Linked DNA regions of Homo sapiens. The protein of the gene in region 3 purifies or fractionates together with the protein of the main gene of each other region. This does not show direct contact. Each region holds a gene or a part of one and is shown on either strand. Other genes may lie near its edges.

Region 1 (3,747 bases), on a different chromosome or scaffold from region 3:
CAATAGTCTGGATTAGAGGCGCAATCTCTGACCTACCTGTAGCATCTATGTCTGAGGGTGGCTAATTAGTCTAATGGGAACGGAGGTACAACCTGGACCTCATTAACCCTAACCAGTTCAGCTAATTGTGTTGATGATAAATGCTTCACTTTCATGTAGCATTTTCATAGGCATTATATCAAAAGGCCTCTATGAACTGAGTATAATTATCCCCATTGTACAGCCAAAAAGACTTCAGCTCAGAGAGGGTAAATGACTTGCTCAGAGTGTTACGTAATGAACTGGAAATTGAGCCCGGGTGTGTCAATCATCATTTAACAAGAGGAAAGGAGGGGAAAAAGGCGCTTCTTTCTCTTGCTCATGTTTTTCTTATGTTTTCTTAGCTCCTGTGAGTTCTTTGGGTTGTTCTTCCCCTACCCTGTGAACCCCTCACCACAATTACCTTTTGAATCTCTGTCTTAGCTGCAGTTTCTGCTTAGCTTCTCCATCAGCTGGGGATGGGCCTAGGAGTCAGTAAGGAAGGACTATAAAACAGACAAGGGGGCTGGGTGTGGTGGCTCACGCCTGTAATCCCAACAGTTTGGGAGGCCAAGGCAGGTGGATCTCTTGAGGCCAGGAGTTCGAGACTGGCCTGGCCAACATGGCGAAAACCCACCTCTACTAAAAATACACACAAAAAAAAAGATAGCTGGGTGTGGCAGCGGGCACCTGTAACACCAGCTACTCGGGAGGCTGAGGCATGAGAATTCCTTGAACCCAGGAGGCGGTGGTTGCAGTGAGCCGAGATCATACCACTGCACTCCAGCCTGGGTGACAGAGTCAGACTCTGTTTCAAAAAAAAAAAAAAGGCCAGGCGCCATGGCTCATGCCTGTAATCCCAGCACTTTGGGAGGCTGAGGCAGGCAGATCACCTGAGGTCGGGGGTTTGAGACCAGCCTGGCCAACACGACAAAACCCTGTCTCTACTAAAAATGCAAAAAACAAAAACAAAAACCAAAAAAACCTAGCCAGGTGTGGTGAAGCATGCCTGTAATCCCAGCTACTTGGGAGGCTGAGTCAGAATCGCCTGAACCAGGAGGCAGAGGTTGCAGTGAGCCAAGATTGCGCCACTGTACTCCAACCTGGGTGACAGAGTAAGACTCGGTCTCAAAAAAAGAAAAAAAGACAAGGGGATTTGGAGCAAAAGGCTATCTGGCCTAGTTGAGCCTGAGTAAGAATACCAGGTTGATTGACTTTTCTTTTCTTTTCCTGGGATTCAGTACTACCTACCTGTTCCCCTCTTGACTTTCACTGTGACAATGGCAAGTGCATCCGCCGCTCCTGGGTGTGTGACGGGGACAACGACTGTGAGGATGACTCGGATGAGCAGGACTGTCGTGAGTGTTGGCAGAGGCTGGGCGGAACTCCATTGAGTTCCACTGGGAAAGGATTTTCAATCAGAAAGCAATGCCCCAGGTCCACATGAGCCCTTGTGTTTTCAGCACTTTGTCCTGTCCTTTCACTTCCTCTCGAAGTCAGATAAGCTGCTGAGAGGCAGCCACCTCCTTCGGAGCCCTCAGGGCAGCACTGGAGCTACTTGACTGCTCCGGAGGGCTTTAAGTCAGGCTTCCAGGCACCAGACCCCCACTGCCTGCAGCAGCCTGACTGCTCTGTGCCCACAGCCCCCCGGGAGTGTGAGGAGGACGAGTTTCCCTGCCAGAATGGCTACTGCATCCGGAGTCTGTGGCACTGCGATGGTGACAATGACTGTGGCGACAACAGCGATGAGCAGTGTGGTGGGTGACCCCAACGGGGGAAGGCAGGCAAGGTGGCCAGTGGGTGGCCTGGCCATGGGAGAAGATAGCAGCAATGGCCCTAGCACTGCCAAACCTCCAACTGCCCAGATATCTGGAGCAGCTAGAGGAACGCAGAGGGGGCAGAGCCGCTCAGACCCCCCAGAAACTGTGGACCAGGAGGCTGAGGCCCAGTCTCTCCAGGGCCTCCGTTCTCCCTGGAGAGTCTGCACTGACTCTGGGGTGCCTTTCGGGGGCTAGGTCAGACCCGCCAAAGCCAGTGAGGTTGGGAGTCAGAGAGGAGGGTGAGAGGGTTGCCTGTGGGGCCCCCTCAGAACTGCTGTCCCATCGCATCCCCCCAGACATGCGCAAGTGCTCCGACAAGGAGTTCCGCTGTAGTGACGGAAGCTGCATTGCTGAGCATTGGTACTGCGACGGTGACACCGACTGCAAAGATGGCTCCGATGAGGAGAACTGTCGTGAGTGGCCCCAGACCTCAGGCTGTTGGGTTGGATGAGGGCAGACAGTTCTGCCCATTGGCTAAGGGCGAGGCTGAGGAGTGCATGTACCAAGGGCAAGGAGCATGGGTGCCTCAGCAGCAGCTCCTCCTAGGCTGAGCTAGGGAGGGAGCAAGTTCCCCAGGTGGGAAGGGAAGGCTTCCTTTGGTCCACCTGAATATGGGCGTCTATAAGGGCTGTCCCAGATGAAACCTGGTTACATCTCACTTGAAGAAGCTCTCCTGCCTGAGCATCCTGCCTGCTTGAGGAATCAGGGCCCCTCTCCTTCATCCAGGCCTGAGTGTGTGCCCCTCCCCACCCCTGCCTTCCCTCCAGCCTCAGCAGTGCCAGCGCCCCCCTGCAACCTGGAGGAGTTCCAGTGTGCCTATGGACGCTGCATCCTCGACATCTACCACTGCGATGGCGACGATGACTGTGGAGACTGGTCAGACGAGTCTGACTGCTGTGAGTACTCTGGCCAGCTGGGAGGTGGGGAGGCCAGGCTGGGAAGAACTGCTTGGGTGGCAAGGCACAGTCGCCAGCTGGGGCAGGAGTTCAGAGAGGAGTTTCTGGATTTTCTGGTCCCTCTTGGGAAGAGATGGAGGAACTGGGATTCTGGGGCTGTGGCCTTCTAGTCTGCCATGGGACACTGCACAGACTGGCTAGAGACAGAAGTCTTGTGTTTCCCTAGCCTCCCACCAGCCCTGCCGCTCTGGGGAGTTCATGTGTGACAGTGGCCTGTGCATCAATGCAGGCTGGCGCTGCGATGGTGACGCGGACTGTGATGACCAGTCTGATGAGCGCAACTGCAGTGAGTGGGGAAATGGAATTAGGTTGGGCTTGAACTAAGGAGAAGGCTTGTGGAGCCAAAGAGGCCACTACCGGCTGGGCGCGGTGGCTCATGCTTATAATGCCAGCACTTTGGGAGACCAAGGTGGGTGGATTGCTTGAGGTCAGGAGTTCAAGACCAGCCTGGGTAACATGGTTAAACCCCATCTCTACTAAAAATACAAAACTTAGCTGGGTGTGGTGGCGCATGCCTGTAATCCCAGCTACTCGGGAGGCTGAGGCAGGAGAATCGCTTGAACCTAGGAGGCAGAGGTTGCAGTGACCCGAGACGGCGTCCCTGTAGCAGAGTGAGATGACATCTCAAAAAACAAGACAATCCGGGAGGTGAGGGGCGCCTCTGCCTGGCCGCCCCTACTGGGAAGTGAGGAGCCCCTCTGCCCGGCCAGCCGCCCCATCCAGGAGGGAGGTGGGGGGGTCAGCCCCCCGCCCGGTCAGCCACCCCGTCCGGGAGGGAGGTGGGGGGGTCAGCCCCCCGCCCGGCCAGCCGCCCCGTCCGGGAGGGAGGTTGGGGGGTCAGCCCCCCGCCCGGCCAGCCGCCCCGTCCGGGAGGTGAGGGGCGCCTCTGCCCGGCCGCCCCTACTGGGAAGTGAGGAGCCCCTCTGCCAGGCCACCACCCCGTCTGGGAGGTG
Region 2 (3,747 bases), on a different chromosome or scaffold from region 3:
ATCCCAGCACTTTGGAAGGCTGAGGTAGGAAGATTGCTTGGGCTCAGGAGTTGTGAGACCAGCCTGGGCAATGTAGCAAGACCCTATCTCTACAAAAAATTTTGAAAATTAGCCAGATATGGTGGCCCATGCCTGTAGCCCCAGTTACATGAGAGGCTGAGGTGGAAGGATTGCTTGAGCCCAGGAGGTCAAGGCTGTAGTGACCCATGATGGTGCCATTGCATTCCAGTCTGGATAACACAGCAAGACCCTGTCTCAAAAACAGTTTAGGGGGCAATGATAAATAGCATGTGCTGATTAGAAAAACTTCTCCATAACTAGGAAAATACGTAAAGAGGAAAGTAAGTTCCCCATGGTCCCATCAACCAGTCCTTTGGGTTCTTTTTTGAGACAGGGTTTCACTGTAGCCCAGGCTGGAGTGCAGTGGCACGATCATAGCTCACTGAAGGCTCCAGTTCCTGAGCTCAAGCGATCCTCCTGTCTCAGCCTCCCAAGTAGCTGAGATTACAGACATGTGCCACCGTGACTGGTCAAGTCAGTCTTTTTATGTAAAGGGGCAAAACTGGAGTGAAATTGCCTGGTATACATGCCCCTTTTTCTGCTTGGTTTTAGAGGCAGGTAGAGTTAGGTAATTTCATATTATTGTTGTTAATTTTTACCTCAAGGCCTTTTTCCTTCCTGCTCAGCCAGGTCTCTTTTTCGCCGGGGTTGACTGACCAGAGGAGGCCCGCTAAGCGCCTGTGGTTAAAGGTCACAGGGACATAAAGACACGTGGTCGATGGGTGTCTGTGTGAGGTCATTAGCTACCTCCTGCTAAAAGGAACACTCATGGTATAGTTTTCTCTGGTCAGGCATCTGTAAATACAGCTGACCATTTGCTACGTTTTCCCCTTGGAAAAGAAATGGAGAGGGCCCAGGCTTGACCTGGCTGCCAGCCCTCGCCCCACCAGGCACTTGCTTGGGCCACTGACTGACCCTCAGAGCATCTTTTCCACCCACACACCACAGATAGAGCCATGCCAGGTCGCAGGGGCAAGTAGGTGAGGTCATGACTGGGAAGTCACCTGCCTCCATCCTGGGCCTCGGCCTCTGAGGAGGTTTCACTTTGGAGTTCCCTGGGCTTATGGGCCCCATTCTGTACACAGAGCAGGCTCCTCCCCGTGGCTATGTCACCTTCAACAGCAGTGGCGAGAACCCCCTGGAAGAAGAGGGCCTCTGCTGCCGGGATGTCACCTCCCCCATCAATGAGCGGGATGTGGAGAGCAGCAGCAGCAGCAGCAGTCGGGGTACGTGCACCCCCACCCATCCGGCCCGTGGCTCAGGCAGGTCCTGGAGCTCCTGTGTGCCCATCCCCACTTATCCCCTGGGCCTGGCGCTGGACACAGCCATCCAGCAGAGGACAGGAAAGGGGTAGGTGTGGACGGCCCTGGTTCTTGTGAGGAATGGGAGAAGCTTCTGGTCCAGCATCCCCGTGCGGCTTAAGGGAGCCGTTCCACAGCAACAGGTTTAGCTCCTTGCTTGGGAGCCCCTGAGGCTTTCAGGGCAGGCCCCAGTAGGAATGTCTGTTATAACTGCACCTCCGTGCAGCAGCTGTTTCCATAGTGCCCACCGTGTGCCAAGCACTGCTCCGGGTGCTTGGGATTTATCAGTGAACAAAAAAGACAGAAGCCCTGCCCGTCTGTATAGAGGGGAGGGTTTAGGACAGGCAGGAAGTTTGAAATATAAGGAAGCAACCGCTGCAGGCCCCAAGGAGTGCCCTGGTGGAGGCGGCTCAGCCCGGGGCACGCCCATGCGCAGCACCTCGGTGAGGGCTGCAGGCGGACGCCCTGTCTTCCCGCCCTCAGAGGAACATGCTTTCTGTGCCAACCTGGGGCCCGTCCAGAGCAGCAGCAGCAGCGAGGGCCTGGCCAGAGCCCAGGGGCTCAGCAGCGAAGCTTCTGTGGAGAGCAACGAGGTACGGATTCTTTCTTTCTTGGTCTCCCATAGCCGGTCCCTGGCTGGGATGCCTGACATCCCCCAGTTACTTTAAGATGAGCATGTATGTAAGAAGCAGCTGCTGCACGTGTGTGCTGCACTGGGACGTGCTGTGTCCAGGGTCTGGCTTCTCAGACGACAGCGAACGCACCGGAAGCCCCTGTGTGGCGGGTGGGGGGTTTCACGAAGCCTCTCAAGCCCCTGTGTGGCGGGTGGGGGTTTCACCAAGGCTCTCAAGTTAGCCCGCGCACTCTTTCAGATGCACGCCTCTCACTGCAGGACTCGGATCATGCCTGTAAAAGCTCAGCTCGCAAACAAGCTAAAAGTTACATGAAGACCAAGAATCCTGACAGCCAGTGGCCTCCCCGCGCTGCAACTGACAGGGAAGGCTTTCTCGCTGAGTCCAGCCCCCAGACTCAGAGGGCCCCCTACTCAGGACCCCAGGTAAGACCGCTTGTGAAACTGGAGGTTACACTCAGAGACGGCACTTTTTGTGACTTAGGAGGCATGTGTTGTGTATATGACGTGCCAGGCGCTGCTAGGAGAACAGAATGGCGGTGGCATCCCCATGGCCTGTTAGGCTCCACAGGCTCACAGCCGGCTCCATGGCTGGCAGCCCCGCTGCAGCGCTTCTACTCTGTTCCTCTCCACGGAAAGGACCTGTCTCCCTGCTTTCCATACTGGAGTTGGCCTCCCTGAGCCTGGGGAGAAGAAAAGCACACTTGACCTCAGAGCTGCCTGCAGGAGTCTGACAAGATGTGGTTGAAGCAGAGACAGGAACTACACACAGTGTGTGCTTGGTGATGGTTACAGCTGCCACCATCCTCCTCCTTTCTGTGGTCCCTCTGACCACACATTACCTTAGGGATCAGAGGTGTGACTCACAGCTCAGCTGTCTCACCTGTGTCTGCTGAGTTCTCCTACCCTGTGTGGGCAGAAGAGGCACGGAGAGGAGAGGCAGAGGGAAGCTCTGGTTGGTTATTTGGTTTGTTTGTTCGAGACGGAGTCTCGCACTGTCATCTGGGCTGGAGTGCAGTGGCGCGATCTCGGCTCACTGCAACCTCCTCCTCCTGGGTTCAAGCGATTCTCCTGCCTCAGCCTCCCAAGTAGCTGGGATTACAGGCACCCGCCACCATGCCCATCTAATTTTTTGTATTTTTAGTAGAGACGGGATTTCACTATGTTGGCCAGGCTGGTCTCAAATTCCTGACATCGTGATCCGCCCGCCTCGACCTCCCAAAGTGCTGGGATTACAGGCGTGAGCCACCACACCTGGCCTGGTGCCATGCCCGGCCTGGCTGGTTATTTGTTAAAGCACTGGCTTTGCTGTTCAGTAGAGCCTTGGATTTGCCGGCTTCTCCCTGCAGCCCCTGGCTCAGTGAGCAGGCACACGTCTCGGTCCCTTCAACATACGTTGAGTGGAGTCTGGTCAGGGTAGTGTCCTAAGTATGTTTCTTTCAGAAAATAGCTTGAAGAAAATGTCAGAGTAACATTTGTTTGTCCATTAAAAGCAATAAACTCTCAAAAGTAGGATTTCTGGAGTTGAAAAGTAAATGAAATGAAAATATCACTAGACGAGCTCACAGCAGAATTGAGCAGGCAGAAGAGTCAGACAACTTGTGAACACAGGTCACCTGAGATCATCTCGCTTGAGGAACAGAAAGAATGAGTAAAAAAAATTAACAGAAATCTGTGATCCCCTCAAGCACACCGACACCACCCCATACAGTGGCATTCCAGAAGGAGAGCAGAAACGATGGGTGAGAAACAGCC
Region 3 (3,747 bases):
AATAATAATAAAAATTAGCCAGGCATGGCGGCACACACCTGTAATCCCAGTTAGTTGGGAAGCAGGAGGATGGCTTGAGCCCAGGAGTTCAAGGCTGCGGCGAGTTCTCATTGCGCCATTGCACTCCAGCCTGCACAGCAGAGTGAGACCTTGTCTCTAAAAAATTTTCTGGCCAGGCACGATGGCTCACGCCTGTAATCCCAGCACTTTGGGAGGCCGAGGCAGGCAGATCACTTGAGGTCAGGAGTTTGAGACCAGCCTGGCTAACATGGTGAAACCTCATCTCTACTAAAAATACAAAAATCAGTTGGACGTGGTGGCACACGCCTGTAATCCCAGCTACTCGGGAGGCTGAGGCAGGAGAATCGCTTGAACTCTGAAGGTGGAGTTTGCAGTGAGCCGAGATCATGCCATTGCACTCCAGCCTGGGCGACAGAGTGAGACTCCATCTCAAAAAAAAAAAGGCCGGGCGCGATGGCTCACACCTGTAATCCCAGCACTTTGGGAGGCCGAGGCAGGTGGATCACAAGGTCAGGAGATCGAGACTATCCTGGCTAACACGGTGAAACCCTGTCTCTACTAAAAATACAAAAAATTAGCCAGGCATGGTGATGTGTGCCTGTAATCCCAGCTACTCGGGAGGCTGAGGCGGGAGGATCACTTGAACCTTGGAGGTGGAGGTTGCAGTGAGCCGAGATCGCACCATTGCACTCCAGCCTAGGTGACAGAGCGAGACTCTATCTCAAAAAAAAAAAAAAATTCTAAAGACTATGACACAGGATAAAGAATATATGAAAACACAGAGGTTGCAGTGAGCTGAGATCACGCCACTGCACTCCAGCCTGGGCGACAGAGTGAGATGCCGTCTCAAGAAAAAAAAAAGTATATGACATACACATATATACAGTTAAATGTTATTCAGTCATAATAAAGAAGGAAATCCTGCCATTGGTGACAGCACTGATGAACCTGGGGCACATTATGCTATGTGAGACAAACCAGGCATAGAAAGATGAATACCGGATGATCTTACTTACATGAAGAATCAAAAAGAACCAGATTCCTAGAGGAAGAGAGTAGAAGAGTGATTGCCTGCGGCTGAGGGACAGGGGAAGTGGGGAGAGATGTTGGTCAAAGTGAACCAACTTTCCATTGTAAGGTGAATAAATTCTCTACATCCAGTGTCCAAATGGTGACTGTATTTAAGGATACTGTAATGTATACTTGAAATACACTGGGCCTGGTGCGGTGGTTCACGCCTGTAATCCCAGCACTTTGGGAGGCTGAGGTGGGTGGATCACGAGGCCAGGGGTTCGAGACCAGCCTGACCAACATGGTGAAACCCCATCTCTACTAAAAATACAAAAATTAGTTGGGCATGTATAGGGACCAGCCCCACAGGGTCGGTGGGTTTCTCCCCATGTGCAGAGACAAGAGAGCGTAGAAATAAAGACACAAGACAAAGAGATAAAAGACAGCTGGGCCCGGGGGACCACAACCACCAAGTCGCAGAGACCGGTAGTGGCCCCGAATGCCAGGCTGCACTGATATTTATTGGATACAAGACAAACGGGCAGGATAAGGAGTGTGAGCCATCTCCAATGATAGGTAAGGATGCATGGGTCACATGTCCACTGGACAGGGGGCCCTTCCCTGCGTGGCAGCCGAGGCAGAGAGAGAGAGGAGACAGAGAGTGAGACAGCTTATGCCATTATTTCTGCTTATCAGAGACTTTTAGTACTTTCACTAATTTGCTACTGCTATCTAGAAGGCAGAGCCAGGTGTACAGGATGGAACATGAAAGCGGACTAGGAGCGTGACCACTGAAGCACAGTATCACAGGGAGGCGGTTAGGCCTCGGGATAACTGCGGGCGGGCCTGACTGATGTCAGGCCCTCCACAAGAGGTGGAGGAGTAGAGTCTTCTCTAAACTCCCCCGGGGGAAGGGAGACTCCCCTTTCCTGGTCTGCTAAGTAGCGGGTGTTTTTCCTTGACACTTACGCTACCGCTAGACCACGGTTCACTTGGCAACAGGCGTCTTCCCAGACGCTGGCGTTACCGCTAGACCAAGGAGCCCTCTGGTGGCCCTGTCTGGGCATAACAGAAGGCTCGCACTCTTGTCTTCTGGTCACTCCTCACTATGTCCCCTCAGCTCCTATCTCTGTATGGCCTGGTTTTTCCTAGGTTATGATTATAGAGCGAGGATTATTATAATATTGGAATAAAGAGTAAGTACTACTAACTGATGATTAATTATATTCATATATAATCATATCTAAGATCTATATCTGGTATAACTATTCTTACTTGATATTTTATTATACTGGAACAGCTCATGTCCTCGGTCTCTTGCCTCGGCACCTGGGTGGCTTGCTGCCCACAGGTGTGGTGGCGGGCACCTGTAATCCCAGCTACTCAGGAGGCTGAGGCAGGAGAATTGCTTGAACCCGGGAGGTGGAGGTTGCAATGAGCCGGGATCGCGCCACTGCACTCCAGTCTGGGTGACAGAGCGAGACTCCATCTCAAAAAAAAAAAAAAAAAAGAAATATACTAAAAGGCCGGGTGTGGTGGCTCACGCCTGTAATCCCAGCATTTTGGGAGGCCAAGACAGCTGGATTACTTGAGGTCAGGAGTTCAAGTGCAGCCTGGCCAACATGGTGAAACCCCATCTCTACTAAAAATATAAAAATTATCCAGGCATGTTGGTGTGCATCTGTAATCCCAGCTACTTGGGAGACTGAGGCAGGACAATCGCTTGAACCCAGGAGGCGCAGCTTGCAGTGAGCCGAGATCGCCCTACTGCACTCCAGCCTGGGGCGACAGAGCAAGACTCCGTCTCAAAAAAAAAAAAAATGAAATGTACTAAGAGTGTAAATCTTACTTGTTCTTACCATCAGATTTTTTAAAAAGGTAACTGGTAACAGATGTGTTAATTAACTTCATGGCAGTCATTTCCCAGTGTATATGTGTATCAAATCATCACCTACACCTTAAATGTATACAACTTTTATTTGTCAAAGACAAAAAAACCTACGACACAGGAAGTGATTACAGACAGAGGGGAAGAGGTCTGAGGACTGAGTCTTAAATAGATATTGGCAGACTGCAGGATCTTGTGTGAGTGTCCTATGAACTGAGTTCAGTTCCGCAGTGCTGTGAGTTTTACCCCATCCTCATGTACACATATGTGGTTTGTTTTAGGACACAGTGGTCTTTGAAGACGTGGTTGTGGATTTCACGCTGGAGGAGTGGGCCTTGCTGAATCCTGCTCAGAGAAAACTCTACAGAGATGTCATGCTGGAGACCTTCAAGCACCTGGCCTCAGTAGGTGAGGATAGCATTATTTCTGCACTTAGTTATTAGATAATAAATGTTTTGTCTGGTTGCAGTGGTTCATGCCTGTATTCCCAGTGCTTTAGGAGGCTAAGGCAGGAGGATCACTTGAGGCTAGGAGTTGACAACCAGCCTGGGCAACATAGTGAGACCTTGTCTCTACAAAAAAAAAATCAAAAATTAGCCCGGTGTGGTAGCATGCTCCTGTAGTCCTAGCTACTTGAGAGGCTGAGGCAGGAGAATCGCTTGAGACCAGGAGTTCAAGGCTACAGTGACCCATGATCACACCACTGTACTCCAGCCAGGGTGACAACTTGAGACCCTGTCTCAAATAAAAAAGAAAAAAGAGCCAGGCACGGTGGCTCACGCCTGTCATCTCAGCACTTTGGGAGGCCAAGGCGGGTGGATTGCCTG

The links.
Region 1: the proteins of ZNF556 (region 3) and LRP4 purify together in Homo sapiens (affinity purification with mass spectrometry; 2 studies listed by BioGRID and IntAct, with this or other methods). This does not show direct contact.
Region 2: the proteins of ZNF556 (region 3) and ANKS3 purify together in Homo sapiens (affinity purification with mass spectrometry; 2 studies listed by BioGRID and IntAct, with this or other methods). This does not show direct contact.

The regions. Positions count from the first base shown.
Region 1 is NC_000011.10:46,897,891-46,901,637, reverse strand, and holds part of LRP4 (low-density lipoprotein receptor-related protein 4 precursor), read left to right. Parts: intron 1-1,259; coding exon 1,260-1,376; intron 1,377-1,661; coding exon 1,662-1,775; intron 1,776-2,134; coding exon 2,135-2,251; intron 2,252-2,605; coding exon 2,606-2,734; intron 2,735-2,960; coding exon 2,961-3,080; intron 3,081-3,333; exon of another isoform or gene 3,334-3,442; intron 3,443-3,747. UniProt on the Homo sapiens protein: Mediates SOST-dependent inhibition of bone formation. Functions as a specific facilitator of SOST-mediated inhibition of Wnt signaling.
Region 2 is NC_000016.10:4,699,641-4,703,387, reverse strand, and holds part of ANKS3 (ankyrin repeat and SAM domain-containing protein 3), read left to right. Parts: intron 1-1,145; coding exon 1,146-1,286; intron 1,287-1,844; coding exon 1,845-1,954; intron 1,955-2,253; coding exon 2,254-2,418; intron 2,419-3,747. UniProt on the Homo sapiens protein: May be involved in vasopressin signaling in the kidney.
Region 3 is NC_000019.10:2,870,295-2,874,041, forward strand, and holds part of ZNF556 (zinc finger protein 556), read left to right. Parts: intron 1-3,201; coding exon 3,202-3,328; intron 3,329-3,747. UniProt on the Homo sapiens protein: May be involved in transcriptional regulation.